2 separate regions of the Homo sapiens genome follow, and region 2 is linked to region 1. The links come from fine-mapping of genetic effects on gene expression. A gene starts in region 1. The other region holds a variant in brackets. All regions are shown on one strand. Distances are between the middles of the regions. Region 1 holds the start of ACCS (1-aminocyclopropane-1-carboxylate synthase homolog (inactive)). Region 2 holds the start of ACCSL (1-aminocyclopropane-1-carboxylate synthase homolog (inactive) like).

Region 1 (15,293 bases):
TGAAACAAACTGATGTCATTATATTTGCTGATTTAGAAAACAATTTGCTTTCAGCTCTGGGAGGGGAGAGAGGTAGATAGGAGAAATCCAACTGAATGCTTCCCTAGATATCAAGACCTTTGATACTTGGCAGAAACCAGATCCCAGCCCCTTGAACGCTAGTCCTCAATCTTGGATGGACGTGGGAGTTTCCCAGGGAGCTTAAATACTGACGTGTGTTCCATCTTCAAAGATCCTGATATAGCCTGAGCATCAGGGCTTCTAACAGCTCCCCAAGTGGTTCTGTTCTATGAATGCAGAGGGCAACTGGCCAAGAGCATCCCCAGGCACACATATATTCCTCCGACTCCATTGTATGAGGCTCAAATTCGGGTGGTAGGAGCTGCGAGTCCCTGCTGCTTGCCCAGTTAACAACAACAGCATCAACCCCTATTAGGGGATTGACTCCTTGCCTCAGGGCTGTGAACTCAAAGAGAACTTTCCTACTAGACCTTTGAGAAGCCCAGTGTCTCTACCAGAGCCTTAGATAAGAGGTGGGTGTATCAGGTGTGGACACCATCAGCTCAAACATACTAGAGTTAGTCTTAGAAATAGCTTGCAGGGTGCAGTGGCTAACACCTAAAATCCCAGCACTTTGGGAGGCAGAGGCAGGTGGATCACTTGAGGCCAGGAGTTTGAGACCAGCCTGGCCAACATGGTGAAACCCCATCTCTACTAAAAATACAAAAATAAGCTGGGTGTGGTGGCGTACGCCTGTAGTGCCAGTTACTTGGAAGGCTGAGACATGAGAATCACTTGAGCCAAGGAGGTGGAGATTGCAGTGTGCCGAGATTGTGCCACTGCACTCCAGCCTGGGTGACAGAGGGAAACTCTGGTTTTTTTGTTTTTTTTAAAAACAGACAAACAAAACAAAAACAAACAAACAAACTTGCATGAAGCCCAGGAAGGGAGCATTTGGGAAGGAACTCTCGGTAGATTTCTGTAGTAATATCTGTGACAGTGTTTTTCCTCTACCCATCCAGAATGGATTGACAAAGTATACCTACCCACCAATTGCTACCGGCTCCGGGAAGCTCACAAGTACATCACTGCTGAGCTGAAGGCATTGGAGATCCCTTTTCACAACCGCAGCTCTGGCCTCTATGTCTGGATCAACTTGAAAAAGGTGTGTTCTGGGAATGAGGACAGGTGTTCTTGGGCAGACCTGCCAGCTGGGTCTTGGGCTCAGTTCTGTTCCTCTGCCCTCCCTAGTACCTGGATCCCTGTACATTTGAAGAAGAACGGCTCCTCTATTGCCGCTTCCTGGACAACAAGCTATTGTTATCCCGTGGCAAAACCTACATGTGTAAGGAGCCAGGCTGGTTCTGCCTCATCTTTGCAGATGAGCTCCCCCGGCTAAAATTGGGTGAGTGGAGCTGACCTCCCAATCCTTTAAAGACGCCCCATCAATTTAATATGTCAATCTTCTCCCCCACCCCCCTTAAACATCCTATAGATCTAGCCCTTTATTCCCTGTTTCCATGTCTATCTTTAGTTAGGTGCTCTTGCAAACAAGAACTGATATGTACCTCAAGCACCTATCCATTCATTACCCATTTGGGGTATCTGTTCTGTGACTGCCATTGAGTGAGGCATTGGGACCACAAGCTAAAAAGTAGTACTCTGAGGCCAGGTGCGGTGTCTTATGCCTGTAATCCCAGCACTTTGGGAGGCCGAGGTGGGTGGATCATGAGGTCAGGAGTTCCAGACCAGCCTGGCCAGCATGGTAAAACCCTGTCTCTACTAAAAATACAAAAAATTAGCCACGCATGGTGGCGCACGCCTGTAATCCCAGCTACTCGGGGGGCTGAGGCAGGAGAATTGCTTGAACCTGGGAGGTGGAGGTTGCAGTGAGCTGAGATTGCGCCACTGCACTCCAGCCTGGGCGACAGAGTGAGACTGTTTCAAGAAAACAAAAACAAACAAACAAAACCCGAAAAAAGTAGTACTCTGCCCTTGTGGGACTGGCAGCCTAGTAAGTGAGATGGATAGGCAGATGACCATGGAAGTCCCTGTATGCCATACTAGAGAGTTTAGATTCTCCTCTGAGGTTATAGAGAATAGGACATTCATGTGAACATTTATTTATTGCATTCCACTACATGCCAGATGCTGTTCTACCTGCTGGGAATATAGCAGTGAATTGTTCATTCTCATGAAGGTTTTTGTTACAGAATTCTTTTGAGCTAGCATAGAAGATAGGCTGAGTGAAGAGACACTAGAGGCAAATAGAAATCCTGATTAGGCCAAGGCCATAAGCCCGAGAGTACAGGCTTTGATACAAGACATTGAGATGTCTCGCAGGCTGACATAACAATGATATTCAAAAAGAAATCAGGGATGCAACATGTAGACTTGGAAATCCATCCCAAAGGTGGGAGGGCTGAAGTTCAGGATCCCTGAATGAGAGGCTTTTATGGTTGACCATGACCTGGGTATGTCTGGGACCCACCAGCAAACCTACTAAATCACTATTTCTCTCTGTCCCCATTTGAACCCTCTAGCTATGCGTCGGTTCTGTGATGTGCTGCAGGAGCAGAAGGAGGCTTTGATAGTGAAGCAGTTGGAGGATGCAATGAGGGAGTAGGCCGTCTGCCTCCCAACCAGCAGTTCCAGCCCATCACTTGCTCAGGGACCCCCTAATGTCAGCCTCTGGCCCAGAAGGCCAGGGTGTCTTTTTGTCAGTGTTGCGATGGAGAAAATGGTGGGCTCCTCCAGGAAGATCTCATCTTACCCGGTTGTCACCCTCCTTAAGCTGAGTGCCTGCTGTCTTTGGAAGCTTTCCATCTTTTTAGTCTTTGCTAGCCATTATATATGCAAAATGTTTTTATCGGGGTTGGGGTGGAAAGGCCTAGAGACACCTAGAGAAATAAAGGGAGTTCTCTGGGCCCCTATTTAGATGGTTTATTTTTATATTCAGTACCTAATAAATTCTATACTTTTAAATTCTAGGCCCATCTTATTTTCTTGCTTATATTCTTCATAATCATCTTTGGAAGCCAGATGATTTTCTGTCCTCCTTAATTTTTAAATTCTAAGGCAGGTTCTATGTAAAGAATACTGTCTAGAGCAGGCCAGAAAAAGAAAGAAGTCATCCTTAACTGATGGGCCATTTTCCAGGTGTTGGATGCAATGTTCTATAAGATTCTTATGAAATCACATCCACTTCCACATGACCTGCTAAGAGGCAGGTGGGAGTATAATTGCAGGTATTCCTGCTTCCAAATACTAGAGTTTGTTCCACTTTTACCTTCCCAAAAGGCTTTTAAAGTCTCTTGCTGGGTACGGTGGCTCATGCCTGTAATCCCAGCACTTTGGGAGGCTGAGGCCAGAGAATGGCTTGAGGCCAGGTGTTTGAGACCAGCCTGAGCAACCGAGACCCTGTCTCTACAAAAAATAAAATTAGCTGGGTGTGGTGATGTGTGCCTCTAGTCCCAGCTATTCAGGAGGCTGAGGTGGGAGGCTCGCTTAAATCTAGGAGACCAAGCCTGCAGTGAACCATATCGTGCCACTGCATTCCAGCCTGGTTATAGAGTAAGACCCTGTCTCTACAAAAAAGAAAAAAAAATCTGACAAGCTTGGTGTCTTAGTCCCTTCATAATATGAAAATATCACAAAGTGGATGGCTTAGAAACAAATCTTTCTCACAGTTCTGGAGGCTGGAAAGGCCGAGTTCAAGGCCCTGGGAGATTTGGCATCTGGTGAGGGTCCCATCTTCCCAGTGTCATCTCATGTGGCAGAAGAGGTGAGAGGTCTTCCTCTGCCTTCATGACCCAATCACTTTTCAAAGGGCTCACCTTCTAATACCATCACCTTGGGGGTTAGGATTTCAAATATGAATGTTGGGGGGACACATTCAGTTCGTAGCATCTGGGGTTGTCCATTTCCATTTCTAATGTTTTCAGCTGTTCAAATTAAGCCACCCATCAGTTTCTCTGCAAAGCCCTTGCATGTCAGAGCACTGATACTGTGAAGTGGGCAGAGAAGGGACTACTACGATTTTATGGATGAAGAAAGAGCTCACAGTACCAACTGGTGGCTTTAGTCGCTTGGGTTTGTGGCCGTACTTGCTCCGAATCCAAATTTGTTTATTCTTGTCAGTTTTCTTGTGTGTGTGTGTGTATGTGTGTGTTTTTGTTGTTGTTGTTGTTGTTGTTGTGAGACTGAGTCTCACTCTGTCGCCCAGGTTGGAGTGCAGTGTCACAATCTCGGCTCACTGCAACCTCTGCTGCTGGTTCAGCGATTCTCCTGCCTCTGCCTCCCAAGCAGCTGGGACTACAGGCACGTGCCACCTCGCCCAGCTAATTTTTATATCTTTAGTAGAGACAGGGTTTTACCATGTTGGCCAGGCTTGTCTCAAACGCCTGACCTCAAGTGATCCGCCTGCCTCGGCCTCCCAAAGTGCTGGGATTACAAGCTGAGCCACCGCTCCTGACCGATATAGCTCTTTTTAAAAAACCTCTAGTATAACGTTGAATAAAAGTGGTTGAGAGGACAGCCTGCCTTGTTCTCAGTCTTAGTAGCATTGAGTGCAATCTTCTGCTCTTGAGTATAACGTTACTGTATTTTTCATTCTGTCCCTTATCTAATAAAGAGTCCTTCTATTACTAGTTTGCTGGGAGTTTTACCATGTATGAGGGTTCAATGTTGTTAGATGTTTTTCATCTGCATTTATAGAGATATGATTTTTCTCTTGATTATCAATGTAGTAAGTTACATTGATTTCTTAATGTTAAAGCAACTTCACATTGCTGCAATAAACCCCATTTGGTCATGATGCATTGTCCTTTTATATACCATTGAGTTTGGTTTGCTATTTTAAGAAGTTTACATTCAAGAAGGACATCATTCTATAATTTTTTTTTTTGTAATGCATTGTTAGTTTCAGTATCATGATTAATACTGGTTTCATAGATGTTTGGGAAACTGTTCCTTCCTGAATTTTCTAGAAGTTTGTGTCCAAAAACTTCTTCAACCTTTAAATATTTGGTTGAATTCAGCTGTAAAACCATAAGGGCCTGGAGGTTTTTTTTTTCTTCTTTTTTTTTTTTTGTGGGACGGCTTTTACTTATAAATTCAATTTCTGTGACAGTTCGAGTTTTCTATTTCTTGTATCAGATTTGGTTATTTGTGCCTTTCAATAAAGTTTGTCTATTTCATCTAAGTTTAATTATTGACTTAAAATTGGTTATAAATATTCTGTTATCCTTTTAATACATTTAGGATCTTTAGTTGTATCTCCTTTTCCTTTCCTGATACTGAAATTGATACATGCAGGAGGGGGATTACGGGGAGGGTCTCCGGAGAATCTCCAACCCATCTGTGCACTGGGAGAACAAGATGGAGCCAAGGGAAGCTGTGGCCATGCTCAGCGGGGAGGAGCCTGGCCTCTTCAATTTCTGTGTGGTGGCCTGGGATTCAATGTGAGTTTGGAGGCCTGTTAGCAGGACCCCCTCTTGCTCTGCTGACAGTATTTTTCTTTTTTCCTTTTTGCCCAGTAAATTCCGTTCCCCTCACCCTTCAATGTGTCCATGTTCCTAATCCTTCCTGGTGGTGTGACAAGAACCCGGTTTTAGCTGAACTAAGGAGCAAAATTCTGCAACAAAATGAGTTTTTTTGATCAGTCAATCTAACTGTTTATCAACTGTATTGAACTTTTCAAAGAACCAACTTTCAGTTTCATTGATTTTTCTCGTTTCGCCTTCATTTCTGCTCTTATCTTTATTTCTTTCTATTTACTTTGGGTTTAATTTGCTCTTTTTTCTAGCTTATTAATGTGGAAGCTTAGATCATTTGTTTTAAGTTGGTTTCAAATATATGCATTACAAGCTATTCATTTCTCACTTAGCATTATTTTAGCTACATTCCATAAACTTTGATCTGCTGGTTTTTAATCATTCAAAATATTTTCTAATTTCCCTTGTGATTTCTTTTTTTAAATCAATGGTTTGCTTAGCATATGTAACTTAGTTTCCAAATATTTGGGGACTGTTCAGCTTTCTTTGTTAATGATTTCTACTTTAATTTCATTGTGACTAGAGAATGTACTCTATGGTTTCAATCCTTTGAAACTTATTAAGACAGTTTATGGCCAGATTTGTTTACAACATGTGGTCTATCTTAATGTTTCATTTGCACTTGAAAAGAAGTATATTCTGTGGTATTGGGGATGGTGTTCTATAAATGTCAATTAGATTAAATTTTTGTATAATGTCCAAAAGTTCTGATCCTTAGTGTCTTTTGATCCATTTGTTCTATCACCGAGAGAGTGGTATAAAATTTTCCAATTATTATGAACTTGTCTTTTCTCTTTTTCGTTCTGTCAGTTTCTGCTTCATGTATTTTGAAGCTTTGTTATTACGAGCATAAACTTTTAAGATTGTCACCCTGATAAATTAATCATTTTATTCTAAAATGCCCCATTTTATTTTTGTTAATTATTTTTGTCTTGAAGCCTACTATCAGATACCAATATGAACACATCAGCTTTTTTCATGATTATTATTTGCTTGTTTTTTTTCACATTTTTACCTTTGACCATTTGTTTTTGTATTTAAAGTGTGTCTCCTGCACACACCATATGCTTGATTCTTGCTGTTTTATCCAGTCTGATGATCTTTTAATTGATCTTTAGTCAATTCACATTTAATGTAACGTGTGTGTATGTCTTCCACTTAGGACAAGTGCCTGTGTTTGTTGTTTCGTGGGGTTAAATCCCCCTGCTGCATGTTTCCATGGTACCCAGTAAATAGTCTTTTTAAAATAGTCCCCACATTGTAAGTCGGCCTTCCCAATCAATCATGCAGGCTTTGGTTTGTCTTGCTCATCACCGTATCCTCGCATTTTACAGAGACCTGGCACATAACAGGCATTCACTGAGATGTGAATTACATAGAATTAAGATTTAAATAGAGGAAAATAATCGCTTCCTTATCTTACAGAAGAAAACAGTAAGGGCCAAAAAAGTCATGAGAGTTGCTCAAGGTCACAGTGTTAGCTAGTGCAAGGCAAAAGTGAAGACAAGAAGTGGAATGGCCAGAAGACAGCCATGTCTTCCCAGCCATACCTGTATTGAGAGATTCTGCTTATTTCCTTTCATGGGGAAAGAAGACTTTCCCATTCAAGGCACCTCAGAGACTGCAGCTCTACCTGGGACCTGGGTGCCCACTGTACCCATTGCCAGAATATGTAGAGCTTAGGGCAGAGTTTGAAAAATACTTTTGAAATTATATGTGTGTGTGTGTGTGTGTGTGTGTGTGTGTGTGTGTATGTAATTTTTTTTTTTTTTTTTTTTTTTTTTTAGATAGAGTCTCGCAAACACCCAGGTGGGAGTGCAGTGGCACGATCAAATTCACTGCAGCCTCTACCTTCTGGGCTCAAGTGATCCTCCCACCTCAGCCTCCCAAGTAGCTGAAACCACAGGCACATGTCATCAAGTCTGGCTAATTTACAAAAACATTTTGGCTGAGTGCAGTGGCTCACGCCTGCCATCCCAGCACTTGGGAGGCCGAGGCGGGCAGATCACGAGGTCAGGAGTTCAAGACCAGTCGGGACAATATGGTGAAACTCCATCTCTACTAAAAATACAAAAATTAGCCAGGCGTGGTGGTGCGTGCCTGTAGTCCCAGCTACTGGGGAGGCTGAGACAAAAGAATTGCTTGAACCCGGGAGGCGGAGGTTGCAGTGAGCAGAGATTGTGCCACTGCACTCCAGCCTGGATGACAGAGCGAGACTCCGTCTCAAAAAAACAAAAAAACATAAAAACCTTTTTTTGGTAGAGACACGGTCTCTCTATGTTGCCCAGGCTGGTTTCAAACTCCTGGGTTCAAGGGATGCTCCCACCTTGTCCTCTCAAAGTGTTGGCATTACAGGCGTGGGCCGCCACACCTAGCCAGAGTTCAACAAATATTGCAGGCACGTGTGGGAGACCAGGACATGCCTCCCCAAAACATGAAGGATTGTGCTAAAGACAAGCAGCAGCACATTCAGGAAAGCTCTCTACCCTGGCCCTATTTGCCTAAAAGTAGGACACAGGTTTACAAAGACAAAAGGTATCCTGTCCCTCTGTCTACCTAGGAGAACAAAGACAACTTTAGACCCCTATGGCCTGGAGATGGTACCAGAGGAATTTACATTAACAAGCTTGACTAACTGGCCTTTGTCTTTTTTTTTTTTTTTTTTTTTTGCCTTCTCACAAGTTGCCTCCTGGAGAGACTCAAAGCCCTATTTCTTTGTCTTGTAACTTAAAAAAATTACTGTTCTTTGTTGAAGATGCTATAAAAACTGGAATTCAAAGTCACCTCTTCCAGAACGACTCATTCCCTCCAGATTTCTCATGTATAAATGAAATACACATGTCAGTAAATTTCTGTCTGTTTTTCTCTTGTTAATTTGTCTTTTGTAACAGGAGTCTCCCCCAACTAAGAACCTATGAGGGCTACAGAAAATCCCCTACAAATGAAAGGGGCAGAAATGACAAACTGCGATGAAAGGCCATAAGGATGCTCACACCCGAATCTAAAAAGCCCTTTGTGTGGGCCGCAGCCAAGCATACTTTGGCAAGAAATTTCTGTGGCTCTAACCTCCTTTGAAAACTGGAGAACCAAGGCCAGGAGGCAGAAGGAGGTGGCAGACCCGGCCCGGCGGCGGCCCAGCACGCGCAGGCCACCCAGAGTGGAGGTGGGAAACGGCATTACGCCCCTTTCCCTTTTCCTGGTCCCGCGGTGCTACCTCGTGTGCCACCCTTAAAGCGTAGTCCCCGCCGAGACCGCCCCCGCCTGAGTGGCAAGGGGACGAACTGCGCCCTGAACAGGCCTGGAAGCCCAACCCGGTGCGGACCGCCCTCAGTCTCCTAGTCCGGGCGCGCTGAGCGCAGGGGGGCGCTGTCCTCACCCACGCGTAAGTCGCCGCAGGGCGTTTCCGGGCGGAGAAAACCTACACGTGATGGGCGCCCACCGAGTGCCAGCACCGCCTCCTCCAGCTCCGCCAAGTAGGTGGGATCCACTACTTTGCAGAGGAGGAAGCCGTTCAGGCCTCCCTCTGTGCACTTTGCAAAAGCCTCTGCCCTTCCATCTCGAATCCCTTGGCGCCGATCACACTTCCTCTGCCTGGAAACCTGGAGCCGTCTCTCGCGAGACGTCCTCCGCCCTGTAGAAGGCCGTTTCGGTTCTTCGTGCGCGGTAGCCGCCCCACTTGCGGGATTCCAAGGCCTCATCGAGTGCGGGTATCTGGCTGTGGATTCGCCGCCGTCCTGCTGGACGCCTGGAGGCTCGAACCCCGCCGCCCCCCTACCCCAGGCTTTACTCCCACCCCGGCTTCCGCCCACTGTGCTGCCCTTCCTCGGACCTGGGCTGTCGGGAGAGCTGGAGGTGAGCGCTCTTGGGAGAGCCCAGCCAATTTAAAGAGTACCCCTGAGAAGACTTTGCGGAGGAAAATTTAACTGCGGGTACCCGCTGAGTTTATGGTGCGCCCAGTGTTACCAGAGCTTGTGTTGTGCATCAGGACTGGGAAAATTGGCAAGGAGTTACGCTATAATGACTCATATTTTATTGAACTTTGGTCATCAGCCAGGATTTGTTCTAAGTACTTTATTGTCACTAACATATATATTTATGTCTTCACGGCCACCCCGAGGTGGTTACTGTTATATCCACTGTGCAGATGAGGAAACTAAACTGGCTTAGAGAAGTGAAGGAGTTCACACCCGCGGGCAGGAGTAGACCACCCTCTCCTTGGTGTCCACACCTCGTTTCTTCAGGACTGAAGAGGCAGGCCCTGGAGCTCTGCCTGGGTTGCCTGCACTTGTGGAGGTTCCCATTCCTCCCTTCCCTCAGTTCCTACCCGCCATCTGCCTCAGAACACCACATAATCTCATCCTACCCTTTACACCACAAGACCCCCAGGACTCCCAGGCAATACTCTGCTTTAACTCAGGAAATTTTAACCTGGCATTTGGTAATTGAGGTGAGCAAGGGTGGAAAAAGAATGTTGATGACCCCTTAGGCTGGAGAGTGAAAAACTTTTGCAGAAGTAGAACACGCTAAAGCAGCAATACATTAAAGTCACGTCAATGTGGCAAGTGCAGTCCCTGGCACGTACTAGGTCCTTAACAGATTTTTCTTGTTGAAGTCGTTGCACATATGGTTACAGCTAAGGGACACAGGAAGTGATGAGTGCATAAACCTAAAGGAAGGGGCAGATAAGAGAAAGGGGACTCCCATGACTCCAACTCCTTTCTGATGCTTGGTGCTATGGAAATCCCTTGAGCAGGCCTGTGCGTTTTGTCTTTTTGCAGATGTTCACCCTTCCTCAAAAGGACTTCAGGGCTCCCACCACCTGTCTGGGCCCCACCTGCATGCAGGACCTGGGCAGTAGCCATGGGGAAGATCTGGAAGGAGAATGCTCCAGAAAACTGGACCAGAAGCTGCCAGAGCTCCGTGGAGTGGGTGATCCTGCCATGATCTCCTCTGATACCTCCTACCTGTCCTCTAGAGGAAGAATGATTAAATGGTTCTGGGATTCAGCTGAGGAGGGCTACAGGACCTACCACATGGATGAGTATGATGAGGACAAGAACCCCAGTGTGAGTGAAGCTCCCCTCCCACTGGGACCCAAGAGAGAACTGCAGGGTGGGGTACCCTACCTTGACCAATAAGGCAGCATCCAGCCTGCTCTTATGAGGTTGGAGTTATGGTACTCTGACCTCCAAGAGGGCTTCTGATGTAGCTTAGAGAGGCCCCAGTGTACTGCCTGGATCAGGAAATGGTCCATTTAGAATATAGGGGACCTTGATTTCTGAGGGAGGAATTCAAGAACCATATGATGTTCTATGGATTCTGACCCACGACCTGTCGACTATCCAACTTTAGAGCTAGGGCAGAACTAAGGTTCAGGTTGCAACTGTTTTACTTATAGGTTGTGTGTTGCTGAGCTAGTTACTTAACTTCCTTGAATCTTAAGTTATCTCTAAAATGAGATAATAAGGCCAAGCATGGTGGTTCATGCCTGTAATCCCAGCACTTTGGGAGGCTGAGGCAGAGGGAACACTTGAGGCCAGGAGTTTGAGACCAGCCTGGGCAGCATAGCAAGACCCCATCACTACAAAAAGGTAAAAATAAAAAAATTAACAGGGTGTGGTGGCGTGCACTTGTGGTCCCAGCTACTGGGGAGGCTGAGGTGGAAGGATTGCTTGAACCTGGAAGGTTGAGACTATAGTGAGCCAAGATCATGCCACTGCATTCTAGCCTGGGCAACGGTGTGAGACCCTATCTCAAAATAACAACAAACAAACAAAAATAAAATAAAATGGGATAATAATACCTGTTGTGTAGAAGAGTCAAGATTAAATGAGAGCAAGTATATGAAGTTTTTAGCACAGTGCTACTCAATAAATGATAGCTGCTATTATTATTTTCTGTCCCAAATATAAGCTATTCTCATAATGCCTTCAGAAGTCAGAAAGCTGTTACAAATAACCCTTTAATAATCTTTATTTGTTGAGCATCTACCATGTAGATGTGAACAGAAACAAAGTTCTTATCCTCATAGAGCTCATATTCTAGTTAGGGAGACAAACAGTGAATGAACAGAGAAAATATATGTATACTATATGGTGGTGAGTACTATAGAGAAAAATAAACCAGGTTAAAGAAGACAGAGAAAGATGGGTGGGCTGGGGATGTTGCTATTTAGTAGAAGGAGGTCACAGAAGGCTATTTTAATAAGATGAACATTTGAGCAGAAACCTGGAAAAAGTGAGGGATTGTGTTAGTTATCTATTGTTGCATAACAAATGACCTCAAATCTAGCAAGTTAAAACAACAATTCACAATTTTTGGAGTTCAGGAATCCTGGTGGATGCCTCAGGCTCAAGATCTTTTTTTTCCTTTTTCTTTTTCTTTTTTTTTTGTGACGGAGTCTCGCTGTGACACCCATGGAGTGCAGTGGCATGATCTCGGATCACTGCAACCTCTGCCTCCCGGGTTCAAGGGATTCTGCCTCAGCTTCCTGAGTAGCTGGGATTACAGGTGTGTGCCACTATGCCCAGCTAATTTTTGTATTTTTAGTAGAGACAGGGTTTTGCCATGTTGGCCTGGCTGGTCTCAAACTCCTGACCTCAGGTGATCCGCCTGCCTCCGCCTCCCAAAGTGCTGGGATTACAGGCATGAGCCACCGCGCCTGGCCAAGCCACCGTGCCAGTCCACGCCACCACGCCCAGCCTCAAGATCTTTTGTGAAGGTGCCATGAAGCTGGGGCTGTGGTCTCATCTGAAAGGTTGACTTGGGGCCAAGGGATTGGGTGGGAGGCTCTACTTCCAATGACACTCTTATGCTTATTGGCAGGCTTCAGTCCTTCTCCACGTGGGCTTCTTCACAGAATTGCCTCATGGCATGGTAGCTGGCTTCTCTCAGGGCAAGTGATTCAAGAGAGAATCACTTGGGTCATGGTACCCAAGATGGAAAGCCACAGACTCTTTATAACCTAACTTTGGAAGTGACATCCCATCACATCTGCCTATTCTGTTAATTAGAAGCACGTTGCTAGGCCCAGCCCATACTCAAGGGGTGTGAATACCAGTAGGCCTTACAGGCTGCGCATCACAGGGAGTAAGCCATGCAGTTATCTAGGGAAGAGCATTCCCAGCAGAGGAAACAGCCAGTGCAAAGGCTCCAGGGTTAGATCATGCTTGATGAGTTCAAGGGACAGCAGAGGGGCTACTGGAGCTGGAATAAAGCCAAAAACAAGATGGGCAGGCGATGGGGTCAGAAAGAGGATGGGGTGGTGGAGGTGATAGAACCTGTAGGGCCCCACAGGACCTGGTGAGCCTTCTGATTTTGGACAAAGTGGAATAGGAGGTATTCAAAGGAGGAGCAGTGTGGTCTGAATTTGGGTTTTGAAAGATGTCTTGGACTGCTGTATGGAGATTTGACTTGGCAGGTGAGACAGTACACAGAGAGAGGGGAGGGAAGCTGTTGTAATAATATAGACAAGAAATGATGGTGGCTTATACCAGGGTCCCAGCAGTGGAGGGTGAGACATGGTTGGACTGTGCATGTGTTTTGAAGGTAGAGCTGCCAGGATGTGTGGACAGATTGGCTCTGTTTCGAGGAGCTTCCCAGCTTGCTTACCAGGTCGTGAAGGAGCACTGCCTTTTATTTTGTCATAGCCTGAGCTCATTCAGGTTTTACTTTTTCATCTTCCTTCCTTCACTCCCCCTGCAGTAACTCAGGGGTCAGCAGTTAGCTGTGCGTGAGGCCTGCACCGAGTCTCCCTGGGGACTCTGTAAGGGAGAGCTTGGGTTATGCCTGCCTGCCTATCCTATGACAATAAATGCCTGTGGGGTGGGGATCAAGGTATTGTGTGATGTTGCAGGGTCTCCTGGGGGAGTATTTGCACTGGCAAAGGAACCTCTTCTTGATCTACATCTACCTTTGCTTCTGTTCCTTCCAGACTGCCAATATACCATCTCTATTCTTTCATTCTGTAAATGTGTATTGAGTCCCACTAAACCCCTCGAGAGAAACAGTGGTGTCTTCAGCACACATCTGTCCTTCAGGGAGCTTACCCTCAGTACGGGAGATACGGTGTGTACCTCAGTCCCTGTGACCTGGGGTGGAAACTGACCAGTTCTCTAAAGGGGACAGATCAAGAGCTATGGGATCCAGAAGAATGTATCCCTTCCAGGTGGGGTTATAGGGGGGACTTCATGGAGGACATGGCATTTGGACAGAGCTTTAGAAATGGGAAGATGGGATCAGGCAGCTGAGCAGAAGGCACACCTTGAGCAAAGGCAAGGAGGGATGTTTGAAAGGGTGGGATTGTAGAGAGCTCCCACTTTGCTTTGCTGCCTCCATGGGCTCCTGGGGCCTTTCACTGGCACCCCCCTGCCATGCTAACTCTGCCTCTGTACCTCTCATCTCCAGGGCATCATTAACTTGGGCACCAGTGAGAACAAACTCTGCTTTGACCTGCTGTCCTGGCGGGTAAGTCCTAGGGCCCCTCTAGGGGGCATCACCAGCTCCGAGGAGCTGTCTTCCCTGGAATGCTTTCCCAACAGGAGCCTGCTGCTTGGCTCAGTGGCCCTGGCCTGGGAATCAGGAGACCCGGGTTCCAGGCCTACCTTGGGACAGTTTTCTGTGTGATCTTAGGTGAGTTTCTTCCCCACTGTAGTCCTATTTCTTCATCTCTGTAGACTCTTATTTCACTCAGTCCCTCCTGCTGTGTTGGGTCCCCTGATCTCAGAGGGAAACACTCAGTGCTTTGTGGTGTAGGTATTTAGCAATTAGCTCTTCAGGGGGACAAAAAAAGCCTGATGTGTAGTTTTGCCAATTTCCGTAGTGTAAATACTCCCACCATGGCTGATTTCAAGCTCCTTATGTGATATCACTGCAGGCAGAGTTGGAAGAGAGCTGCATGGGCACACTTATGTAATATTTTCACCATATAGACATGTAGACAGAACTGACCTCAAAAACATAGATAGTAAAAGGTACTAGCAAATCAGGAAGCAGTGACGTTTGAGTGCTTATCACCTTTGTTTGTAAGATAATGTATTTCATTGTCAGTTTATATTAATTTGCTTTTTAAAAGTGGCTGTTTTTAACACAGCTTGCAACATTTCTGAAAATTTTATAATCCGATTTCTTGAGCTGTGGTAAGCCATCTTAGCAACCACTGACAATGCCTAATAAATGTGTCTCCCAAGGCGGCAGTGGCAGAGTTTGGGTTTGTAGAGACAGCAATCCTTAACCCAAAGGAACATATTTCCAAAGGGAGAAATCTCAACCCCAAGGGGAAGGGGTTATAGGGAATAGATTTTATTTATTTATTTATTTATTTATTTAAGATGGAGTCTTACTCTGTTGCCCAGGCTGGAGTGTAGTGGTGTGATCTCAGCTCACTACAACCCCCTCCTCCCGGGTTCAAGCAATTCTCCTGCCACAGCCTCCTGAGTAGCTGGGATTACAGGCACACACCACCATGCCCGGCTAATTTTTGTATTTTTAGTAGAGACAGGGTTTCACCATTTTGGCCAGGCTGGTCTCGAACTCCTGACCTTGTGATTCGCCCGCCTTGGCCTCCCAAAGTGCTAGGATTACAGGCGTGAGCCACTGCACCCGGCCAGGGAATAGATTTTAAAGGCCTGTTTTACCTAAAGCCAGCTCCTCCTTCTAAGGCAGCTAAGCACTGAAATAAAAGGTGAGCCACATATATCAATTTAAATTTTCTATTAAAAAAAATAAAAAGATGCCAGG
Region 2 (15,293 bases), 19 kb before region 1:
TCCATGCATCCATCCATCCATCCATCCATCCATCCATCCATCCACTTGGTCATTCATTTATTCATTCACAGACATTATTGAGCTCTTCCATGGGCCAACCACCCTTCTTTGCGTTTGAGAAATATCAGTAAACAAAGCAATTGAAGACCTCTGCCCTCATGGAGTTTACCTTCTAGAGAAGGGGACTGAAAATAAACGATGCATGTAATAAATGAGTACATTATATAGTATGCTTGAAGGGGAAAAGTGCTATAAAAATGAAAGGTGGGATGGAGGAGGGGGAACTGCAGTGTGGTGAGCATGAGGAGCGGGTTGTAGAATTAAATAGGTGGTCATAGCAGGACTCTGGGAGAAGGTGAGCTTTGAGCAAAGCCTTGAAGGAGATGAGGGAGTGAGCCAAGCAGGTATCTGAGGACAGAGTAGCCCAGACGCTGGATTCATGTTAGAGCCAAGACTCTAAAGCACTGCCTACCTGTTGTGTTTTATACAGAGGGCATGAACAAAGTATGTGGGAACATAGGCATGGGTCCCTTTATCTGCCTGAGGAGTTAAGGAGGAAGGCTCCTTGGAGGAGGTGATAAAAGAGCTTAGACTTGAAGTATAAGCAGGAATGCGCAGAGTGGGCAAGCCTCTGACAGGGCTTTCCAGTGGAGAGGCAGCATGTGCAAAGGCCCGGGGGAACAAGAAATCCTGGTGTGCTGGGAGAGTTAAGGAGGCTCAATGATTTGGGTTGTTAGAGGGTAGAGTTAGAGGGTAGAGTGAGGGGGAGAGGAATGCAAAGGATGAGAGTAGGGAGCTAGATGTGACTGATTATTCCAAAGCTCTATTTGCCACACTGAAGAGCTTGCAAATGATGGCTACAGGGCTGAAATCAACGGGCAAAATGACTTTGCTTGGCTGGCCTTACTTTTTAAAAAATTTTGAATGCCTATTGGAGGAATAGGCAGGCTTCCATTAGCCTATGTCCTCCCCAACCTCTCCCTTTTCCTTAAGTCAGCATTGTACTTGTGTCGCCACTGTGTCCCTGAAGGTATTTGAATTTGCAGTCTCTGTAAGGTGAAGGGGAACTGTCAAAGGATCTTGAGCACAGGAAATAGGGGATCAGACTTTTCCATTGGAAAGTTTATTCTGGGGCTCCTTCAAGTCAGGGGATTTATTTCTTCATTTTGATGCTCCCAGGGTCTAAGACAATACTTGGTATCTAATAGGTGCCCGGTGGATTGTTTTTAGTTTTGTTTTTAATGAATGGGGAATGAATAAACAAATGACAGAGGAGATGGGCTCCCAGTGCAGGACAGGATGGGGGATATGTGAGGTCCTGCCCTCTGGGGTAAGGTGCCTGCCCACAGCTAATGCTTCCTTTAGGTGTGGAATCTACTATGGCACTGTCTTTCCAAGAGTCTTCCAGAATCACCTGTCATGCTTGTTTTAAAAAGCAGATTCCTACCACTCAGCCATAAAAAAGGAATGAATTAATGGCAATCACAGCAACCTGAATGGGATTGGAGACTGTTATTCTAAGTGAAGTAACTCAGGAATGGAAAACCAAACATTGTATGTTCTCACTAATAAGTGGGAGCTAAGCTATGAGGATGCAAAAGCATAAAAATGACACAATTGATTTTGGGGACTCGGGGGGAAAGGATGGGAAGGGGGTGAGAGATAAAAGACTATAAATTGAGTTCAGTGTATACTGCTTGGGTGATGGGTGCACCAAAGTCTCACAAATCATCATTAAAGAACTTACTCATGTAACCAAACACAGCCTGTTTCCCAAAAACCTATGGAAATAAAAAATAAATAAAATGCACATTCCTGGGTTCAGTTATACACCTACTGAATTGGAATCCTACTGATGTGGAGCCCAGGCACCTGTGTGTTAAACAAGCTCTCATTAAAGTTTGCAAAGAGGCACAAGGCAGAGTATTCTGGGGCTACAGGCTGCCTTGGCCTTGCTTCTGTGTAGACCCCTAGAGAAAGCAGCACAGCAGCTAGCTGCCCAGGGCAAGCCTGGCAAGCCCACAGCACATAGTCATGGGCGGTTCCACCTGCCCTATCACTTTAGCATATCTGCTCCCGTCTAGTCCTCATACCACCCTCGGGGAGGTAGGTTTCATTACTGCCATCTTTAACAAGGAGAAACTGAAAACCAGAAAGGCTAGGTGGGTTTGCCAAGGCCACACAGGCAGGGGGGCCTGGGCAGATTGGGATCCAGCTCTCCTGGGTCTCCTTCCTGATCTTTCTTGCCAAGTTGTCTTTTCTGCCCTGGGTTAACCCACTTCAGCTTGTTCTCAAATCATGACCTCCTCAGATATGGGGAAAAGTCAGTAGCTCATTTGTGTTTTAATTGGGAGTCCCTTGCTCTAGTAGTTCTCAGTAGTTTGTAAGTATTAGAATCACCTGGTGGTCTTGATAAAGTACGTAGGCCCAGGCCTAGCCTACTTCAAAGAGCCTGGTCCTGTAGCACTTGATTAGTTCTCCAGGTGATGCCAATACCCTCCAAAGTTTGAGAACCGTGGCTTCAATGAGTGGTTCTCCCTGGGTGGGCGTTGCAAAGCCTTTTCTCTGTAATGGGGCAAAGAAAGCCCACTTTAGGTAATAGGGAATTCCTGGGGAAGATCACCCTGGATGGGAAAAGGTGGATCTTATTATTACCTCTAAAGTCACCTTGTGCCTACAAGCAGAACATGCAGGCCACAGTGGTAAACACATTCAGTGAGGAGGGCGGCAGAGCAGGTCCCTGAGTGCTGACAGTCAATGATGGTTTGCTCAGTCAGTTTCTAGGCCAGAGAAAAGAAGAGTGAAAACAGATACAGAGGTAAGTGCTGGTGGCAGGGTAATGTGAGCTGTGGGATGTAGAGTGAGAGAGGTACTTTGGACCCGGTGATGCCTAGGGCTCCTGGGCCTCCAGTGAGGTAGGGTCCCTCATGGACTTAGGTGGCTCATGGATCCCCAAAAGTGAATGCCAAGCTTTGAGAGTATGTGCGCCCTTCCAGGGAGAGGCCTTAAGGAGGAATGTTTATAAGGGCAATGGGGCCTGAGGTTGACCAACTTGGGTTTGAAGCTCCCCTTTCCACGTCCTACTCGTACCATCTTGTGTGATTCATTGAGCCTCTGTTTTCTCACCTGTAAAGTGAGTCTAATGATGGTACCCTCCTAATAGGACTGTTTTGAGAATTAAATAACATAAAATACATAAGGAACCTAGACCAGAGCCTGACTTGAGGCAGTGCTTGAATAATGTTTTAGCTGTCTTTGGTAATATTGTGGTTCAGAGAATTCTATGTCCCCCATGAATAGTTTACGTCATTCATAATCATTCAGGTCATATCTGGGGACCTTGCTAAATTCAATGGACTGTAATGAATTATGTCCTTAACCGTGTCATCTGAAAGTTGGGGATAATTCTTACCTCACAGCAGTTGTTAGGGTTAAGTGAAAATGAAACTACTTGAATGGGTCAGCTAGGTAGTCATTAGGCTCACTTTTTAGCTAAGTGACCAGCCTTTTCTTCCAGATTACTAATTTTCTTTTTAGCTATATCTAATTGCCTGCTAAACCCTTTTGTTGAGGTTTTCCATTTTTGGTCCTTATATTTGAACCTCTAGGATAGGTTGAAAATGCTAGTCTAGTGTTTACCAAAGTCTGACCTATGTGTATATGCAACATAGGCATAGCTGTGTTCCAATAAAACTTTATAAAAACATGAGATGGGCCCCTATTCTACAACTATGTTAAACTCTTGTAGATCTTCCTTTAATTCTCTTGTGTTTTCCAGATGTATAGTAGTAGTCTGTAGATAGTGATAGTTCAAATTCCCTTTTCTGACTCAAATTTCTTACCTTGGCTAATATTCTTGGCTGAGACTGCTGGTACAATGTTAGATATTTAGCAGAGACAATAGGTAGGCCTTATCTTGTTTATGAGAATCCCTCCATTGTTTCCCAATTGTGTAGGAGGCTGGCTTTTTAGCTGAGAGATGTTTCATGTTAAATAGGTACCATTCATTTAAATAAGTTGTCTAAATAAAGAATGGGTGCTGAATTTCGTCAGGTATCTTTTTAGCATCTATAGATATAATTGATTTTTTGAAACTCCCTAGGATCTATTAATGAAAAGTTGATATAAATAATAGTATTAAACTAGTCTTACATTCTCATATAACCCCACTTGGTCATAAGGTTATTTTATGGTGCCATTGGATTCCATTTGCTGAATGCTATTCAGCTTTTAAGATATTGATAATCTACTCATAGGTGAAATTCATCCATAGTTCATTAAACTTCATCAAATCTTTATCACTATTTATTTGACTATAAAGTATGGGGTTTTTCTTCTCTAAAACAATTTAAATAGCATTGGAGTAATATACTCCTTTAAATATATGGTAGAATTCACCTGTGAGACAGTCTGGGCCAGTTACTTTCTTAGGGAGTTAGCTCTTTTCTAACTTCCATGGGAACTGATTTGTTCAGATTTTATTTCTCTTCTGGGATTAGGACTAATAAATTCAGTTTTTATACTAAATTGTCCACTTCATCCAGATTGAAGTGTAGCCATAGAACTATTCAAAATAGTCTTTAGTCCTTATTTCTGTGTACATGCTTTCTCCTGTTATTTTTATTTTTATTTTTTTTTGTAGAGATGAGATCTCACTATGTTGATGAGGGTGGTCTCCAACTCCTCAAGCCATTCTCTTGCCTCAGCCTCCCAAATGTTTGGATTACAAGTGTGAGCCACCATGCCTAGCCTTCCTGGTTGTTTTTTTTTTGTTTGTTTTGTTTGTTTTTTTTGTTTTTTTAGCTTGTCTTTTTTGGAACTAGCTCACTTTTTTCTACTATAAAATAATTATGCAAATATCCTGTGTAAGTATGAGGCCCAACCCCATCCTGGTCTTTCCACTGGAAAGGCTAGCATTTAAAATAAAGTTGTTGACTGGGTGCAGTGGCTCACACCTGTAATCCCAGCACTTTGGGAGGCTGAGGTGGGCAAATCACTTGAGCCCAGGAGATTGAAACTGGCCTGGGCAACAAGGTGAGACCTGGTCTCTACAAAAAATACAACAAAATTAGCTGGGCATGGTGGTGTGTGCCTGTGATACCAGTTACTCGGGATGCTGAGGTGGGAGGATTGCTTGAGCCTGGGAAGTTGAAGCTGCATTGAGCTCTGATTGCACCATTGCACTCCAGTCTCGGTGACAGAGTGAGACCCTGTCTCAAAAATAAACGTATTTAGCTATTTATATTCTAGCAGAGACTTAGTTCGCTATAGCTACATTTTAAATCTATTTAAGTCTGATAAGATTCATAAGTATACCGTTTGAGCTTGGACAAATGGCTATCACCATCTACCTACCACTCCATCAAATAGAGATCACCTCCATTTCCCTAGAAAAGTTCCTTGGGCCCCAGTGCAGTCAGTTTCCTACACGCCTCCCCTGGCAACCACTAGTCTGAGGAATTGGTATTGCCTGTGGAAATACTGATCCTGTGATGGTCACAAGATTCTAAGTGGAGTTATTTTCTTTCAGTACATTGAAAATGACATCCCACTGTCTTCAGGTTTCCACTGTTGATGAAGTTAGCTTTTGATCTGTTATTCCTTGAAAGGTACATTTTTTTCCTGGATTGCTTTTGAGATGTTATCTTTGTCTTGTTTTTTGTAGTTTCACTATATAGTGTAGATTTCCTTATCCCAGTTAGCATTTGGACTTCTTGAATCCATGCTTTGATGTCTAACTATCTAGCACTGAAGATACAGCTTATTCAAATGATTTTTGTCCCATTTTCTCTTCTTTTGGGACTCCAAAAAAATACATCTGTGTGTGTATTAGATTTTTTCATATTCTCTTACTTTCTCTTGTCTTCATGCCTTATTCCAGAAAGCTTCTTCAGCCTCTTCTTCCAGGTTAGTAATTTTATCTTTAGAGGTTTTAAATTTTTGGTCTTTATATTGTAACCTCTGGGGATCTCCTGTTTTCCTTCAAATCTGTTATTTTAATAAATTTTAATTTTCTTTCCATTTTTAAACTTGGATTTTATCTCCTTCAACAGAAAAGCAATTATTTTATAATCTACTCCCAATAGCTGGAGACCAGTTGGTCTTTCTCTTGTCTGTGCTGGTGGTTTTAGGTCATGCTGTTTATTTATGTACCTGATTTTCTATATGCTGGACACAATATTTTAAAAATGCTTTGAGAAATATACTCTATGGTAGCAGCTTCCAGAGTGTTTGCTTACTTCTACCTGGAATTTTGAGTCACCAAAATACGGTATGATTTAACCCAATCTCAGAACTTGAGACTTTCTGGGTATTATGTGACATGAAGCCAGGCTGGAGTTCATGCAAGGACTGGTTTTCTACTAGTTCACTCTGCTTCCTAGGGCTAAAATGGGAGGCTTGGGGTTTAAATCCTGGCTCTAATGTGAGACCCTAGAAGGTACTTATCTTCACTGGGCTTCAGTTTCATCACATTCTTCTCATCTTACATACGGAGAAACTGATGCCCAGACAGGGGAAGTAATTCTTCCAACATCCTACAGTTAGTGAGCAGCAATTATAGAATAGAGCCTAGGCCTGTCAAGGGTACTTCTACTTGAGCTTTCAATTTTGCACCTTGTATTTAGGGATCTATATCCCCAAATAACTTGCTTCCCCTTACATGCACATGAAGACGATTCTGCAATCCCTATCATACTTGCCATACCCAGAAGGAAGAATCTGAATTAGGTGAGAGTACTGAGACACCAGAGGAGGCTGGTGTGTGGCAAGAAGAAGGAAGGCTGGAAGAGTTATAAGGGCTTGTAGGGCACTAGAAAAAGTGATATTAGAAGTATCCTTCTGTAAACAGTATAGCCATGTGCTGGCATCAAAAGTGAACTGCCAGCCTGTTCCCACTTCATTTCCCACATTCATTTCTCCTTCCCAACTTCTGTTCATGATCTGTCTTTCAGCTCTTGTCAAAAGGCTGCTAGCATCTACTGGGCTGATCCTGGGATACTGGTTCTAGCTGCTAGAGAAGGCCCCCGGGTGAATGGAAAGGTAGATGGTGGGAGGCTGACGAATACTGAAACCAATGGTATAGCCAAGGAGACTTGAGGAGAGGATTGGTATACCCCCGGTACCAGACAACTTAGGGCTGAGGAATAGGGGCATTGTTGCCTTTGTGGAATGGTGTCATTTACAATAGACTTTTCCCATAGAAAGATGAGTCTTGGCAGAAGTCCAGCTTCTAGGTTTACTCCTGGCCTTGCTGCATACTCACTTTGTTATCAGAGAACACATTTTTGGGACCATGCATGGTGGCTCCTGCCTACAATCCTAGCACTTAGGGAGGCTGAGGCGAGAGGATCACTTGAGCCCAGGAATTTGAGACCAACCTGGGCAACATGATGAAACCCCATCTCTACAAAAGATACACAAAAATTGGCTGGGTGTGGTGGAATGTGCCTGTAGTCCCAGCTACTCAGGAGGCTGAGGTGGAAGGAACGCTGGAGCCCAGGAGGCAGAGGTTGCAGTGAGCCATGATTGCACCAGTGCACTCCAGCCTGGGCGAGAGAGTGAGATTCTGTCTCAAAAACAAACAACCCCCCCCACAAAAAAACCAAAACATTTTTACCAGGAAAACGCATTACTTTCAGTTACCTGCCTTGGCCCCCATGTTTGCTATATAAATCTGCCCTGGGGGGTTCTCATTCAAACTACTTTAAACAAGTTTCCTCCTCCATTTGCCTACTAGGCCACACTGGCCTCCAGCTTCCCTGCCGCATCCTGGTCCCTATTTCCTATGTGCCTGGAGTCCCCGGCTGA[G/A]TGCTTGGTATATGGGGCAGACTAGTGGGACTTTGGTAACAGCAAGGACTTCCATGGCAAGAAGTCTAAGAGCCCCTAATTTAACTGAACTGGAATAACTAAAATTCTGGGACCATGGGCTGAGCTGGCTGATGTTACAGAGCTGTCCAAAGAGCTGTCCCATCTTTGACTTTGTTGTTAAGGTGACACAGGGCAAAGATACTCAATGTGTAATTCCAGTCCTGGGAAAAGGAAGAAGATGCCTGGTGACAATAGCTTCTTGTTCATTGGAGGGAGGTTACCACCCCGATCTTGGCTCTTTCCACTAGCACTCCGCAGGACCAACAGGGATGATAGGCACCACCTTTTGGAAGGCAAAACCAAAGGAATCTCACCTGGCCCTTGCAATGCTCTATGATAATCAAGTATTTGGAAAGATAGTGTGACTTACCTACAGAGTTGAGAGCCCCATTAAAATGAATCTCTTCTAGGACAGGGAATTTGGGCCAGGGCAAAGTTCTTGCTTGTGGAAGAGACGGTTTCTCTAGGCATAAACACTTATATTTGTTCAATTTCTTTCTCATCAGTATGTTCCTAACACTGAATAAAGTTTTTGCATTATGATTAAAGGTTGGGATCGTAAGTCAAGACTTGATACAGCTTTGTTCTGTGGCTTTCTCTGTCTATTGCTCCATCTTCCATGGCCAAAGTCTTCATTTATGGCTCATCTCTTCCCTGACTTGGCAACATCCTTGTGGTTATGCCTCTCCTACTCATTAACTATGTTAGTTGCCCATGTGCCAAGGTACTGTGCTAAGAATGTAATACTGAAGGCTGACCTGGGCAGACACTGAACAAGTAACAATATTAAATGTCACTAAGGTGAGGTATAGGTTGCAATGGGAACATCACAGGCAAACTGAACATGGTTTGAAGAAGTTGGACAGAGTGTTTGGTACTCTGAAGTACTGGTGCCCTAAATTTATAAAAGAAGCAACGAGGTTTTTTTTTGTGTTTGTGTGTGTGTAGGGGGATGTTACTTAGGGGGAAAAACTTGGAATTGTAGCATTTGGTGGAATGGGCATAGGTCTAGATTTTTAGAAAAAAGGGTCTTGATATCTTGGGATATAAGGATTGTCTTAAAGAAGTAGTGGCAGCTGTTGGCCTCAAGCTTTCCTACCTTCTGGGATCTTGCTATCTGATTTATTGATTCTTTGAGGCTTTAAAAGGTATTTTTTGGTCTCGTTCAGTATTTAACTTGTTTTCAAAAGGAAGGTTAATCCTAATCGTTGGAAGTTTGTTGCAGTAAGCCATAATCATGCCACTGCAATTCAGTCTGAGTGATAGAGCAAGACCCAGTCCCTCCAAAAAAAAACAAAAACAAAACAAAACAAAATTGCTAAGTATAGTCCCAGGAACTTGCTAGAAATGAGGATTCTCAGGTCTCACCCCAGACATACTGACTCAAAATTCAGGGGTGAGGTCTCACCATCTGTTTCCTACCACGCCCTCCAGGTGATTCTGATGGACTTCAAAGTTTGAGAGCCATGTACCTAGCCCATAGTTACAAGTGATGGAAGCCTAAGGCAGCTGTCACAGTGAGTAGGTGGAAGGCATTTGCAGGAAGCCAAGTGAGGATAGAGGAACTGAGGAATCTAAAGGCTTTGAGTATCTGGTATGGCCAACCTGGAGAAGAAAAGGCAAAAAGAAGGGCTGATGTTCTTCAACAGGGCTTGGCAAACCTTTTATGTAAAGGGCCAGACAGTTAATATTTTAGGCTTCGTGGACCACATGGTCTCTGTCACGTGGTCTCTGTCATGACTATTAAACTCTGCCATTGTAACACAAAAGCAGCCATAATCAAGACATAAATAAATGAATGGGGCTGTGTTCCAATAAAACTATCTACAAAAATAAGTGGCAGGCCAGATTTGGCCCTCAGGCATTAGTTTATTCTAGCAGAATGTTTTACTCAGTGGGTAGTGATGGTGATTGTTTTTGAGCAGTAGAAACCCTTTTTTCCTATTTAACCAAACAAAGCAGGAAGTGCTCAGGTTGAAGAACGGGGTGGAAAATCCAGAGCCTCCTTGTTCATATCCCCCTGCTCTTCCTCAGAACACATCCTAATGCCATTTAAATAGAGCACTCAGTGTCTAGGCTTGAGGCCATGTACTCATTGCCCTAAAGAGTAGGTAACTCTTCATGAACCAATCTGGTCATATAACCAAGGCATGGAAGTGAGAAGAACAGATCTGAGATCTGTTCTGTCTCCATCCATTCCTGGACCTGAGGGTCCAGGAGATCCTCCTTTGCTCCATTGTCAATGGTCTCTTTCTCCATAGGTGCCAGGCAGCCTTCAGAGGCCAGTAAAGATACCCGGAGTATGAGTCATCGGTCAGACACCCTTCCTGTGCCCTCTGGTCAGAGGAGAGGCCGGGTCCCCAGAGACCACAGCATCTATACCCAGCTGTTGGAGATAACGCTGCACTTGCAGCAGGCCATGACGGAGCACTTCGTGCAGCTGACGAGCAGACAGGGCCTGTCGCTGGAGGAAAGGAGGCACACTGAGGCCATCTGTGAGCATGAAGCCCTTCTGAGTCGCTTAATATGCCGGATGATCAACCTCCTACAGTCTGGGGCCGCGAGTGGCCTGGAGCTCCAAGTGCCTCTTCCTTCTGAGGACTCTAGGGGTGATGTCAGATATGGGCAGAGGGCCCAACTCTCTGGGCAGCCTGATCCAGTTCCCCAACTGAGTGATTGTGAAGCTGCCTTTGTCAACCGCGACCTATCCATCCGTGGGATTGACATCTCTGTCTTTTATCAGTCGAGCTTCCAGGACTACAATGCCTACCAAAAAGATAAATATCATAAGGACAAGAACACCTTGGTGAGAATTTGGGGTGGGGGGTGGGCAGCATCCTCACGGGCTCCAGTCACTTGGATTTACTGAGTCCTGGGCCAAGTGCTATATATGCTCTCATTCTTTATAGCCTTATGAAACGGGCACTCTTGTCATCTTGCAGATAAGGGAATAATTACAGAAATAAAGTGACATGCCCCAGAAAGTTAGAGAACTCCATCCACCCCCACATCCCTCCCTCTCCCTAATCCCAGCTCTTAATTATTAGGAGTTGGCCCCTGTGGTCACAGGGACAAATGAGCCTGCCGTTAAAGAACTTAGCGTAGTGATGAATGGAGTCAGCCACTGGGGCACAGGCATTAATAATCTTCCCAAGAACGTGAAAGGGATGCCCACTTCAGGTGGTCTGGGAAGAGGTCTTAAAGGCTGAATCAGCCAGCCATGTGGTGATGGCCATGGCCATGACCCTCCAGGCAGGAGGAACAGCACACGTGAAACCTTCAAGATGCGAAGGGCTAGGAGTGATTGGGAAAGGAGGTCCAATGGCCAGAGTAGGGACCACTGGTGCTGTGGCAGGAGGTGTGAACAGAGGTGGATGGGAGGTGTTAAGATGTTACCCTAAGAGGCTGGGCGTGGTGGCTCATGCCTGTAATCCCAGCACTTTGGGAGGCCAAGGTTGGTGGATCGCTCAAGTCCAGGAATTCGAGACCAGCCAGGGCAACATGGTGAAACCTCATCTCTACAAAAAATACAAAAACTAGCCAGGCGTGGTGGCACACACCTATAGTCCCAACTATCTGGGAAGCTAAGGTGGGAGGATCACTTGACCCCGGCAGCTGGAGGTTGCAGTGAGCTGAGATCGCGCCACTGCACTCCAGCCTGGGTGACAGAGTGGGACCCTGTCTCAAAAAAAAAAAAAAAAAAAAAAAAAAGGAATGTTACCCTAAGGGCGATGGGGAACTGATGAAAGGCTTCCAGGAAAGGGGGTCCTTAGCAGCTCTCCAGCCAGAGGGTGGAGGGTGACATTAGCTATACCTTCCCCTTCTGTTCCTATCTCTGTTCTCCTCTAATAACTTAGAAGGCCCTAATGTGTAAGGAGAAGTAGCAGAGGTAGGTGCCAGATGGGGCCTTGGGGATTAAGGGTCCAGGCTCAGGCGTCAGGTAGGTAGAGTTCTACTTTTCACCCAAGGTCACATGGCTAGTAGGCTATTCAACTTTTCTAAACTTCACTCTTTAAACTGGATTATATAGAACCTTCTTTTCAGGAATTAAGACAACTCACAAGAAGCACTTGGTCTAGTATCTGGTACATAATAAGAACTCAATGACTGGTCGATAGGACATAACTTATTTATGTGGCTCTAATGGGGAAATTTGCAAGCTGTACTATTTTGGGTTCATGGAAAGCTTTCCTAACGTGTAAAGTTGTCAAATTTGGATTGAATTGCCTCATAGGCAGTGAGATCTCCATTTGAACTAATGTTTCAAGGGATCTATGTAGGGTGGAGCAAGAGGACTGACCTGATCTTGGATTCCTTCCATCTCCAGGGTTTCATTAACCTTGGCACCAGTGAGAACAAGCTCTGCATGGATCTGATGACTGAAAGAGTAAGGATGTTCTGGGCTGTGTTGGGACCCACCCCTTCAAGGCTTAGTCCCCCTAGCGTGCTCCTGAGCTATGGTAGATACAGGGGTGAGACATAGGAGCCTGGGAAGAGGAGTGAAGAAATAGCTTCTAGAATAGCACATTTAACCTCCTGGCTTTGCTGACTGTCCAGAGATATTCTCTGATTAGGTATATGGTGGGAAAGTTGCTATGGGAACCTCTGGGTCAAATACTTCCCAGTGAGGTATCTACTTGTGTAATTTATGACAAGATGGTAGCCTCCATTCATTAAGGAGCATGCAGTGTATATACCCATTCCCTTTCTAGGAGGTCATGTATGTGGAGGGCAAACACTCATGTACAAACTAGGAGTAGAATGAGGCCTCTTGAACTTCCCTGGCCTACCTGTCTTCATGTTCTATTTGTCAACAGTTGCAAGAAAGTGACATGAACTGCATTGAGGACACCTTGCTTCAGTACCCTGATTGGAGAGGGCAGCCATTGTAAGTGACCTTCAGATTTAGAGTCTCTTGGTCCCACAGGCAGCTGTCCTTATCCAGAAGGAGGATTCAAGGCACCAAATTCCTGGTTGGTTACCTCCCTATCTCTTTGGGTAATAACTTCTAGAAAATGCCTAGAGCAAAACTTCATCAGGAGGCAGCCTGGTATAGTAGGAATAGTTATTCTGGTATAGTAGGAATAATTCAAAAGGCCTGAGTTCTTTTTTTTTTTTTTTTTTTGAGATGGAGTCTCACTCTGTCACCCAGACTGGAGTGCAGTGGTGCTATCTCAGCTCACTGCAGGCTCTGCCCCCTGGGTTCAGGCCATTCTCCTGCCTCAGCCTCCCGAGTAGCTGGGACTACAGGTGCCCGCCACCACGCCCAGCTAATTTTTTGTATTTTTAGTAGAGACGGGGTTTCACCATGTTTGCCAGCTTGGTCTTGATCTCCTGACCTTGTGATCCACCCGCCTTGGCCTCCCAAAGTGCTGGGATTACAGGCATGAGCCACTGTGCCCGGCCAAGGCCTAAGTTCTTGTCCCAACTCTCATTTATTGTCTGTGTGACTTGGGGAGTTGATGGTCTTAGTCAGTAGCCCTGTAATATGAGGTTGGACTGAGTAGAAAAGGTCCCTGTTAGGCTGGACAATGACCATCTAGACCATGAGTGAGGAAAGGGGCCCGGAAGCCACAAGGTCTCTCTGGGTCTGTTTACAGCCTGCGGGAAGAAGTGGCCCGGTTCCTGACCTACTACTGCAGGGCACCTACCCGACTTGACCCAGAAAATGTGAGTCAGTTTCCCAGCCTTGCTGCCACCCTGGTGGAGGGCTATATTCTTGGAGGATGCTCTGCCCTTTCTAGGGGGTACAAGGAGAACCAGTGAAGACTCTCAGGGCCAGGGCAGCATGAAGGCCAATGTGTCCCAACTGAGGAGGCTCCCTGTGCCTGTTCTGCCCAGGGGGATGGAGAAAGCATGGCTACCCCTTCTCACATAGGTATTGGTTTTGACTTCTGCCTCTCATGTGTTGTCTTCAGGTGGTGGTTCTAAATGGCTGCTGCTCTGTCTTCTGTGCCCTGGCCATGGTTCTGTGTGATCCAGGCGGTAAGTCAGTGGGCTCTCCTTTCACTCTCAGTGAAATACTAGCAACACAGGTAGGAACACACGGGCACTGGACTTTGAGGAAGAAGAGCATCCTGACTCAAGGCCTTTTCCCCAAAGTGGTGGGCCTTCTCCCACACTGACTAGGTTATCTTCCTATTTCTGTGGGAACAAGGGGTTTGGATTCTCCATTTAAGGGAAGAGAGACATGGTGGACCTCAAGGAGGTATGCCCCAGGAATGATGATGGGAGCCTACCTACTATGTTCATGGCTGGGCTTTTGGGCTCAGCTGCAATACAGACAGCCATGGCAATGGACTCAGACAATATAGATTTCTTATCTCTTCAGAAAAAGGCTAATTAGTCCTGGACCCAACAAGGTTGAGTGGACTGTTCTGAACCTCCCCGGTAACAATGCTTAAGCAAGAGGCTCCAATGTTAAAGAGCTCTGGATGCATCAAAAGAAGTGCTAAGATAGTCCCTTTCCTGCAAAGGAGCTTCTCTCAGCTCATCAGTAAGGCCAAATGGATGGGAAGAAAAGAACGTGAGATCACCATGTCCAAATAACTGGAGCCCTCCTTGTGCATGGACCTTGACCTCTGATATTTGGCCTGAATCTGTTGAGACTTTCCTGATAACCATTGCTCCATCTGCTAGTGAGCCTCGCTTGACTTGTGCCCTGGATTCTGAGTTACTCAGTGATATTCTTCCCTCTTCTTCTCTAGTGTACCCGCAAAGAAGAAACTAGAGTTTTGTTTCCCCCAGTGATGTCTATAATAATGGATAACTTTCATAGCACCTGAACCTAAGAACATTAATCCCCAGGTAGAAAGGATCGTGAAACTGACTTTTTTTCTGTCGATAGCTTTGCTAGTTTGGGGAGCCTGGCAACAGGCTCTGATTGGGAGACTTTGGACTGATAGCTCTGTCTCTCTGTGTTTCCAGAGGCCTTCCTGGTCCCTGCTCCCTTCTATGGTGGCTTTGCCTTTAGCTCCCGCCTGTATGCAAAGGTTGAGTTGATTCCTGTCCACCTGGAGAGTGAGGTCTGAATGGGGCCCCTTCCCTGCTCAGTATGCCTAGACAATGGACTGTTCTGGGGACACCTAAAGGGGTAGAGGGGCTTGCTTTCTACCCATCTAAGTGGTTGGGTAGGGGTGGAGAAGGCATGTGGACTGGCACTCTGGTATGAAGGCAAAGGATTGCGGGGCTTATGGGAATGAGGAATCAAGACTTAGATTTTAAGAGACACTTCTCACATAGTGTTTCTCTTCCAGGTCACTGTTACAAACACCCATCCTTTCCAGCTCACTGTGGACAAGTTAGAGGAAGCCCTGCTTGAAGCTAGGCTTGAGGTAAGGTGGGAACCATATTTTTAGGATGGCCACTGCTGGTCCTAAAAGGGGTTTGAGTATTGAAATTCTGGTACTGCTTATTCACCAAGA

Evidence for each region. PIP is the estimated chance that this variant, and not a neighbour inherited with it, causes the effect.
Region 2: its variant is the best candidate, but not a certain one, in a credible set for the expression of ACCS in whole blood (INTERVAL, PIP 0.50).

The regions. Positions count from the first base shown.
Region 1 is chr11:44,057,295-44,072,587 of GRCh38, forward strand. ACCS (1-aminocyclopropane-1-carboxylate synthase homolog (inactive)) reads left to right here and starts at 8,976. Exons shown (of 15, transcript NM_032592.4): 1 at 8,976-9,407; 2 at 10,334-10,621; 3 at 13,962-14,021. The coding sequence starts at 10,334. ACCSL (1-aminocyclopropane-1-carboxylate synthase homolog (inactive) like) reads left to right here. Exons shown (of 14, transcript NM_001031854.2): 12 at 1,023-1,165; 13 at 1,252-1,405; 14 at 2,544-2,683. The coding sequence ends at 2,626. RefSeq lists enhancers at 8,616-8,745, 8,846-8,935, 8,956-9,145.
Region 2 is chr11:44,037,866-44,053,158 of GRCh38, forward strand. It overlaps ACCSL (1-aminocyclopropane-1-carboxylate synthase homolog (inactive) like), which reads left to right and starts at 10,116. Exons shown (of 14, transcript NM_001031854.2): 1 at 10,116-10,675; 2 at 12,197-12,256; 3 at 12,687-12,757; 4 at 13,470-13,539; 5 at 13,788-13,854; 6 at 14,797-14,894; 7 at 15,126-15,203. The coding sequence starts at 10,172. The variant G/A (reference allele first, on the strand shown) is at 7,810.